Homo sapiens: one gene and its partners. The protein of the gene in region 2 purifies or fractionates together with the protein of the main gene of each other region. This does not show direct contact. Each region holds a gene or a part of one and is shown on either strand. Other genes may lie near its edges. The genes, in order: MARCHF5, SLC25A38 and AGK.

Region 1 (3,660 bases), on a different chromosome or scaffold from region 2:
AAAGAATTAGGAGGCAGGTCAGGCGTGGTGGCTCATGCCTGTAATCCCAGCACTTTGGGAGGCTGAGTGGGGAGGACTGCTTGAGACCAGGAGTTCAAGGCCAGCCTGGCCAAAACAGTGAAACCCTGTTTCTACTAAAAATACAAAAAATTAGCTGAGCATGATGGCACACACCTGTAATCCCAGCTACTTGGGAGGCTGAAGCATGAGAATCGCTTGAACCCGGAGGCTGCAGTGAGCCAAGGTTGCACTACTGCATTCCAGCTTGGGCAACAGAGTGAAGGCTCTGCCTCAAAAAAAAAAAAAAAAAAGAATTAGGAGGCACTGAAGATGAACTGCTACATGAGTCTGGAGAAGAAGAGAAAAATATTTCTGCAGACATGGTCAGAAGAGCATTATAAACAAGGCAGAACCTAACTAGGTCTTGAAAAATGGGTAGAGCTTTGAAAGAAAAGATGCCAAACAAAACCCAAAAACAAAAACCACCTTATGTTTGGAAGAAAGTGCGCAAGCCAGTTTGGCTTGGGCAAAAGACTTGGGTACTTATACACTTATTCATAAAGAGAAGAAAGGCTTTAAAAAGGCAGTTGGTGCCAGCTATGTACGGCATATCTTAAACATAATAGGGAGCATAATAAATGGTCTGTGAATAATGGTGAGTGTCCTGAAGGACAGGCTAAAGAATATGATCTCTTTTTTTTTTTTGAGACAGGGTCTTGCTCTGTGGCCCAGGCTGGAGTGCAGTGGCATGGTGCAATCTCAGCTCACTGCAACCTCCATAACCTGGGCTCAGGTGATCCTCCCATCTCAGCCTCCCCAGCAGCTGCAATTACAGGTGTGGGCCACCACACCCAGCTATTTTTTCTTTCTTTCTTTTTTTTTTTAAGTAGACACAGGGTTTCTCCATGTTGCCCACGCTGGTCTCAAACTCTTGGGCTCAAGCAATCTGCTCCTCTCGGCCTCCCAAAGTGCTGGGATTACAGGCATGAGCCACTGAGCCCGGCCAGATCTTTTTTTCTTTTCTTTTCTTTTTTTTTTTTGAGACAAGGTCTTGCTTTGTTATACCCAGGCTGGAGTGCAGTGATGTGATAATGGCTTGCTGCAGCCTCAATCTCCCAGGCTCAAGTGAACCTCCCGCTTCAGCCTCCTGAGTAGCTGGGAGTATAGGCATGCACCACTACACTGGTTACTTTTTTATTTTTTGTAGAGACGGGGGTCTTAGTATTTTGCTCAGGTGGGTCTCAAACTCCTGAGATCAGGCGATCCTCCTGCCTCAGCCTCCCAAAGTGCCCAGCCCTGAACTTAATCTCAATAAGCAGTAAGAAAATACAAGTTTTGAGCAAATGAGGCAATTTAAAAAAATGGTGCTTCTGCATGATTATTCTAAGCACTGATATGTCACAAAGAATGAAAAGAAAGACATCATGATACAAAAGAGGGTCTCCTATGCACTAAGGCCCTTGTGGGAAAATAGGATAGGGAATACAGGCAGTTTCTGTTCTCAGTGAACTTCCAGATGAATATGTGTGTGTGTGGGAAGCTCTGAGACATGGGACAAGTATATTAAAAAATTTACAGTACAATGTGATACACTATAATAAATGCAACAAGGTTCTATTGAAACACAGAAAGGAGTTATTAACTCTGTTTGGGGGAGCTGTGCAAGGTGTCACTGTGGTATTTCAGCTGAATTCAATATGGGTAAGACTTCACCAGGTGTTAGGAGGGAGGAAGGCACCTAAAGCAAAAATAAAGAAATGAAAGAGCAGGATATGTTCAGGGGTCAATGAAGGGGAGTGCAGGAAAGGATGGTTAAGGTAGGTTGGGGCTGGATTATAGTAACAGATCAAAGCACGTTACCCCGTTGAAAGTTTACGTTTTATCCTTTTACGTGACACAGAGACTGGCAGATTTTTAAGTATAGAAATCGCATGATTATAATTGTGCCTTCGCTAATTCTAGTGCCACTCTGTAGGCCAAACTGGACCAAGTGAAAAATTGAAGCTAGAAAAAGGAAAATCAACAATATGTGATGAACAAGTGGATCTGGAAGGAAAGAAGGCAGCAAAAAAATGTAAATAGGCCGGGCAAGGTAGCTCATACCTGTAGTCCTAACACTTTGGGAGGCCAAGGTAGGATTGGTGGAGAACAGGAGTTTGAGACAGCCTGGGCAACATAGTGAGACCCGTCTCTATCCCCCTCCCCACCAAAAAAAAAAAAGTTTAAAAAAAATTAGCTGGGCATGCTGGCTTGCCCTGTGCTCCTAGCTACTTGGGAGGCTTGAGCCTGGGAGTGCAAGACCCTGTTTCTTTAACAAAAACAAAGAAAACAAGAAAAACTTATGTTTTGGCTAGCTTCATGCCTGTAATCCCAGCACTATGGGAGGCTGAGGCAGGAGGGTCACTTAAGCTCAGGAGTTTGAGACCAGCCTGGGCAACACGGCGAAAGCCCGTCTCTACTAAAAATACAAAAATTAGCTGGACATGCAGTCCCAGCTAGTCAGGAGGGTGAGGTGGGAGGATATTTTGAGCCGGAGGGTGGGGGATGGAGGTTGCAGTAAGCCGAGATGGGCCACTGCACTCCAGCCTGGGCGACAGAGCCAGACCCTGTCTCAAAAACAAACAAACAAATAAAATTTATGTTTTATAGCTGGTGGACAAGAAGACTGGTAATATCAAAGACCAAAAATTGAGAAGTCAAGATAAGTAGCTTAGTTTTAGATTGATTGGCAATACTGTATACACACAAATGGAAATGTCCACTGGGCAGGTAGAAATTAGGTGCTAAAGGAAATGAGGAAAAGAGGTCAGGAATAAAGACACAGATCTGGGAGTTGTTTGAATAAACAGGAAAGAGAGTGAGTAAGTGTACTTTCTCAAAATAGTAAATGCTGAGAATTGAACCATACATAGAAATTGAAGGAAGAAAAAGGTAACGTGATTCTGAAGGATAAAAAGTCCTGAAGAAAATGTCATTATATTTACTAAGAAATTATTGGTGACCTTTAGTATACATATACATATATAGAGAGAGAGATCGTGCAGTGGCACGATCTCAGCTCACTGCAACCTTTGCCTCCCAGGTTCAAGCGATTCTTGTGCCTCAGCCTCCCGAGTAGCTGAGATTACAGGTATGTGCCACTATGCCCTACTAATGTTTGTATTTTTTGTAGAGATGGGGATTCGCCATGTTGGCCAGGCTGGTCTTGAACTCCTGAGCTCAAGTGATTGGCCTGCCTCGGTCTTCCAAAGTGCTGGGATTACAGGTGTGAGCCACTGCACCCAGCCCTTCAGTACACTTTCAGTAGAGCTAATGACAAGAAAGGGGAATGAAAGTCAAATTATCAGGAAAAATAATAAAGAGAAAATAAGAATCTAAATGTCATAAACGAGACTGGATTAAAAAAGAAAAAAGGCCAGGTGTGGCGGCTCATGCCTGAAATCCCAGCACTTTGGGAGGCCGAGGCAGGTGGATCACGAGGTCGGGAGTTTGAACCAGTCTGGCCAACACAGTGAAACCCTGTCTCTACTAAAAATACAAAAAATTAGCTGGGTGTGGTGGCACGTGCTTGTAGTCCCAGCCACTTGGGAGGTTGAGGTGGGAGAATCAATTGAACTCAGGAGGTGGAGGTTGCAACAGTGAGCCGAGACCACGCCATTG
Region 2 (2,401 bases):
GATTATGAGGGAGGAGGAAGGGGCATTTTTTCTTTAATTAATATGAAGAGAGGGCCACCAAGAGCATACAGTGAATTACAAAAAGATAAGACAAATGACAAGAAGGCACCTTTTCCTTCAGCCTGGATCCAGGATCCAGGGTTTGGCAAGCAGGTTTCTGCCTGGATTTCATCTGCTACTTGGGGCTTAGTGCTTCTGTACAGTATACAAACTGCACAAGTACACAGCAACCCTGCATAAAGACTTTCAGCTAAGAAATCCCCCTAGATAGAGCAGCCTAAAAAGGTAAGCCCAGCAACTACAAAAAAAAAAAATGGTTTTTGGCCAAGCGCGGTAGCTCACGCCTGTAATCCCAGCACTTTGGGAGGTTGAGGTGGGCAGATCACAAGGTCAGGAGTTCGAGACCAGCCTGGCCAATATGGTGAAAACCCCATCTCAACTAAAAATACGAAAATTAGCCGGGCGTGGTGGTGGGCGCCTGTAGTCCCACCTACTCGGAAGGCTGAGGCAGGAGAATCGCTTGAACCCAGGAGGCAGAGGTTGCAGTGAGCCGAGATCGCGCCACTGCACTATAGCCTGGGCGACAGAGCCAGACTCTGCCTCGGAAAAAAAAAAAATTTTTTTTAAGTTCTTTGGTTGTCTCCTTGGACCCATTATTCTTACTTTGGGCATAAAGTTTAGAAACTAAGTCTTAAACATGGGATAACAGAGACCCTCACTGTGGTACCAAGTGGATAATTAATTGTATTGCTACTTTGCTTCCAGAGTTCTGACATTTATTTTCACCATAGGACTATGGACTACGTGGCTTCTTCCAAGGTGGCATCCCCCGAGCCCTCCGCAGAACTCTAATGGCAGCAATGGCGTGGACGGTGTATGAAGAGATGATGGCCAAGATGGGCCTGAAGTCCTGACCAAGAGAGGACTGGGAACGGGTGAAATCTGTTGCCCTGCTTGGTTTCTGCCAAGGGCTGCTGCTTCTTACTATTCTGCAGTAAGATGAAGTCCTACCTGGAAAACCAGGCAGAAATTGTGTTGCCTTTGCCTTCAGTAATCCCCTTAAGGAGAAAATATATGGACCTGATTTCAGCCTTCAGAATCTCCAAAAGAGGAGTCATCAATTCATAGAGCACACTAGGGTGTTAGGAGAGAGCTTTGCATACTCTGAGAGGCTACTTGGAAAGGCATTTTCCCAGGAGAGCTCTGTCAGGTGGCTGCGCTTCAGCCCCACCCCTACACCACAGGGTCTCCTTGGGTATGTTCTTGGGCAAGCAATCACAAAGCCAGAGAAGCTGTAAGCTGCCTGCCGGGCCTGAGGAGCTCCAACCAGGGAAGACTGGATGTGAGGAGAGGAGTCACTGTCACCAGGTCACAGACTGACTGAGGTGATGGTAGGATGAGGAGGAACAGATGCCCTTCTTTAATTGGTTCTCAGTTAACTTCTCAGAGGCTCTGGAGAACGGGACAGTGGCTTTCTAGCCTCTGAATGTTCCAAATAAAATTTTTTGGTCTTGGCCCCTGTACTGTTTTACCTCTAAATTCTGGCATTTTTTTTTCCCTGCAATTAAAGTGCTGTACTTTATTTATTGAACTTTATCATTGAAAGCTGTTTGGAAAACCTAAAAGATGTTGTCACACTTCTGTTTTCTTTACCTGTGCCTTATAAAAATGGACCAAACCCTTTTCTAAAATAAAATAGTTCTAGGGTGGCTGGTTATTGACCTATGTAGGTCCCTAAAACCTAATTTCTGTTCAAAAAAGCAGCTTTACTGAATGATGCAACCATCACTATAAATCAGTTTAAGAACATTTTTATTCCCCAAACAGATCTCTCATGCCTTTTGTAATTAATCCTCATTCTCAGCCCCAGGCCACCACTGATAGGCTTTCTGTCTTCATAAATTTGCCTTTTCTGGATACTTCATATAAATGCAGTCTGTAGGCCGGGTGCGGTGGCTCAAGCCTGTAACCCCAGCACTTTGGGAGACCGAAGCGGGTGGATCACATGAGGTCAGGAGTTCAAGAGCAGCCTGGCCAACATGGTGAAACCCCGTCTCTACTAAAAATACAAACATTAGCTGGGCGTGGTGGCATGTGCCTGTAATCCCAGCTACTTGGGAGGCTGAGGCACGAGAATCACTTGAACCGAGGAGGCAGAGGTTAAAGTGAGCTGAAATCATGCCACTGCACTCCAGCCTGGGTGACAGAGTGAGACCCTGTCTCAAAAAACAAAAAAACAAAGTGACTATACCATTTTCCATTCTCAGCCACAGTATATGAGAGTTCCAATTTCTCCACATCCTTGTCAACACTTGTTATTATCTCTTTTATAGCTATTCTTATTGTGCACTCAAATCTTTTCTTGAAAATTCAGGAAAGATGGCCAGGCAAGGTGGCTCCT
Region 3 (3,660 bases), on a different chromosome or scaffold from region 2:
TAAGTGTGCTTTTTTATTAGAAAAGCATTTGGTACCTAAGAAAAGTGACAATAGCTATAGTCCTCTCCCACTAATTCAGTTATTTTTATTTTTACCCTGTGGAGATAGAGAGGGCAGTGTCAGGAGAAAGAGGATGTGGTGTGCCTTTAAGGAATAACAGCAATGAGGAGAAGCTGCCACCTGCAGGAGTGGCATAAATGCTTCTGGGGCTCTGATTACATGTTCTGCTCATTGCTTAATTGGCATTCAGAGAACTTAGGGCAAGAGGGCTTTAGAAATGAAAATTAGCTATTCCCATTTGTCACTGGAAAAAAATTGTGGAACTTTTAGTTGAGTAAATATCCACGATTTTTGTGACTGTACTAAATATGTCAAATTAGATCCTCAGGAGAAAAATACCCACACACATACATCTGTATCTATATCTACATATTATTTATTTAGGCCCAATCTATAGGTATGCACTATCCCATACGGTAGCTATTAGCCACATGTGGCTAGTTAAATTTAAATTAATTAGAATTAAATAAAATTCAAAACTTAGTTCCTAAGTCACACTCACCACATTTCAAGTGCTCAACAGCCATATGTAGCTAGTAGCCATCATACTGGAAAGCACAGGTATACAGCCTGTCCGTCAGTGCAGAAGGTTCTGTTGGGTGGTGCTACTATAGACAACACACCCAAAAGTATTGAAATAAAGCAGGCATTGGCAAACTGGTCTGCCACCTGTTTTTATATAGCCCAGAAGCCAAGAATCTTCTAATTTTAAATGATGCAAAGAAAATCAAAAGAATAATTTTTGTGAACAGAAAAATACGTAAAGTTCAAGTTTCAGTATCCATAAATAAAGTTTTATTGGAGCACAGCCATATTCATTCACAAATATATTGTCTGTGGCTGCCTTTGTGCTACAGGGGAGAGCTGAGTAGTTGTGACAGATTGTATGGCCCAAAGCCTAAAATGTTTATTATCTGGTCACTTACAGAAAAAGTTTACTGACCCTAGTATAGAGAAAACCTTGGTAATTTATATCAATGAGAATGCCAATAGGAAAGTAATTGTTAACTGTGGACTAATTACATTCAGCTTGTATGCAAATTAGTCTGTTCACAGTTGTCTAGGCCAGTCTGAAAATTAGCAGATGGAGTTGGAATGTCGTGAAAAGTTTGATTCCAATATTAATAGAGTGATAAGTTTGATTCTAATATTAATGTTCAGAGTATTGAGATGTTTTCTAACTATGAAAATAATACATGTCCATTGCAAAACATTTGGAAAACATAGCTCCCTTCACCCTATAAAAAAAATTCTAGTTTGATTAAAGAACTAAATGTAAAATAATAAAATCATTAAAGTAGTAGGGTAAATGGCACACGTTTATACCTATGTAACAAGGCTGCGCCTCCTGTGTATGTATCCCGGAACTTAAAATAGAAGTTTGAAGTTAAAAAAAAGTATTAGGGTAAAATCTAAGTGATTATCAGTATAAAATTAAGGAGGACAAGGCCTCTCTAAGCATGACATTTAAGGCAAAAATCATATTGATGCATTTGTCTTTTTATTTAAAAAGACATTCTAAACAAACTTTTAAATGACATATTGGGAAAAATATTAGCATGTGATAGACCAGGAATTCACTTTCCTTTTAACAAGCTCTTAGGATAAAGCAATGAGAAATGGGCAAAGGACTAATATAAAAAGTGAGCAAGGGGTAAGAATAGAAAATTCATAAAAGAAATAAGCATATGAAAAAATAGCTTATATTTGCTGATTATTTACTACATGTGAGGCACCTGTCCTAAGAATTTTACATAATATTATGTAATCCTTATAGGTAGATATCTTTATCTGCATTTTGTAGGTAAGGAGACAGAGTGATTTCAGCAAAGAAATGCAAATTAAAATAGTAAGATTGAATTGTCATGACTAAAAAGCATGTTATAGATTAAAAGCTTAGTGGTGGTGTGTGTTTCTGATGGGAATATAGATTGGAACATCCTGTCTCAGCAATTTGGCATAGTATACATAAAGTGTCTAAAATATATGCATACCTTCTGCCCTATTAACTGTATTTCTAGGAATTTATCCTACTGGAATAACCTGATGAATATATAATGTAGGCAGTCCTTTTTTACATAATGGAAATCTGAAAAACACTGGTGAAAGTGGATATGTGAATGCTAAAAAAAAAAAAATAGATTCTGTTCCAGAGGAATTTAAAAGAGAAAGATAAAATGTCTAATTATACATCTCCTTTATACCAAGTCTTTAATAATATGTATTCCGAGTATTTTATTCATGTTCTTTACCATTGTTCTTTTCTCTGATGACTGAGTACCACTGAATGGATTGAGTTCAGTGAGTATGTGAGTGCGCTCAAGATTAGCCACACTCACAATGCCAAGTGCTTTTTATCTTTGTGCCTATTTAAAAGTATACGATACTGTGCCGCTTATCACTAGTAGCAGCAAATTCATTTGTTTCGTTTTTGCACAGTTCTTTATAAAAATAAAAGCAAATGCAATACAATAAAGGCAGTGTAGCTGCCGTGTAATAGCTCAAAATGTTCACTTATTAAAAGCAGCACATTCAGTGTATGAAAGAAGCTGTAGGAGTATAGAATGTGTGAAAATTAGGATCTCTTATACAACTATGCTCACTGTATAATAGTAAAATATTTGCAATGAACTAATCAGACTGAATAAATTTTGGTACATTTATTAAAAGTCATATCTATTTTATATATGTATTATTTTCTATCTATTGACATGGGAAAAATAGGTGAAAAGATTTGCAACATAGTTCCATTTTTCTTTAAAAAGGAAATACCCCCACTTATAAGTGAGTTTTGTGAATGATGGAGGTAAAGCTCCAATTTTATGTTCTTTCCAAATAGAAAGCCAGTTGTCCAAGCGCCATTTATTGAAATCTCCATTTTCCCCCATTGATCTTCAATAAACCTCTGCCATACATCATGTCTATATACATGTAAATGTTTCTAGTCTCTTTCTTCTATTGTTGTTCCATTTTCTCATATTTATACTAATACTCTGCTTCTCTTATTATAGTTTTATAATAAGTTCTATGTTTTTCTCTTTTTACACAGTCTCTTGGCTATTCTTAGCTCATTTGAGTTCTATAAATATTTTAGAATGTTTATTTTATTAAATTCCACATAAAAATGTTATAATATTGATCTCACTGCATTGTACCCATAGATCAATTTGGAGAGAAATGACATTTCTACAATATTGACTCCTCTAGCATATGAACGGGGTATATCTCTTCATTTATTTAGGTCTTCAATGTCTTTCAATGAAGTTTTATAGTTTTCTCTGGAATATCCTGTCTTTTGCTGGATATATTCCCAGTTATCTTAATTTTTATGCTATTCTAAATAATATCTATTAAAATTTCATTTTCTACCTGATTTAGTAGATGGACATATAATTGATTTTTATATCAATGCTGAATCAGCAACCTAATTAAATTATTATTAATTATTCTAACTTTCTTTCAATGAATTCTTTCAAATTTTCTACAGATTTAGTCATGGCCAATGCAAATAGTGCAAGGTTTGTTTTCTCTCTTCAAATACTTATCCTTACAATCCTTCATTTTACTTAGAGCACTGGATAGGACCTCAGTACATGGTTA

The links.
Region 1: the proteins of SLC25A38 (region 2) and MARCHF5 purify together in Homo sapiens (affinity purification with western blotting; one study listed by BioGRID). This does not show direct contact.
Region 3: the proteins of SLC25A38 (region 2) and AGK purify together in Homo sapiens (affinity purification with mass spectrometry; one large-scale study listed by BioGRID and IntAct). This does not show direct contact.

What each region holds. Positions count from the first base shown.
Region 1 is NC_000010.11:92,297,543-92,301,202, reverse strand, and holds part of MARCHF5 (E3 ubiquitin-protein ligase MARCHF5), read right to left. Parts: intron 1-3,660. UniProt on the Homo sapiens protein: Mitochondrial E3 ubiquitin-protein ligase that plays a crucial role in the control of mitochondrial morphology by acting as a positive regulator of mitochondrial fission and as an important regulator of immune response.
Region 2 is NC_000003.12:39,395,607-39,398,007, forward strand, and holds the end of SLC25A38 (mitochondrial glycine transporter), read left to right. Parts: intron 1-791; coding exon 792-914; 3' UTR 915-1,745; downstream 1,746-2,401. UniProt on the Homo sapiens protein: Mitochondrial glycine transporter that imports glycine into the mitochondrial matrix.
Region 3 is NC_000007.14:141,641,910-141,645,569, forward strand, and holds part of AGK (acylglycerol kinase, mitochondrial isoform 1 precursor), read left to right. Parts: intron 1-3,660. UniProt on the Homo sapiens protein: Lipid kinase that can phosphorylate both monoacylglycerol and diacylglycerol to form lysophosphatidic acid (LPA) and phosphatidic acid (PA), respectively. Does not phosphorylate sphingosine. Phosphorylates ceramide.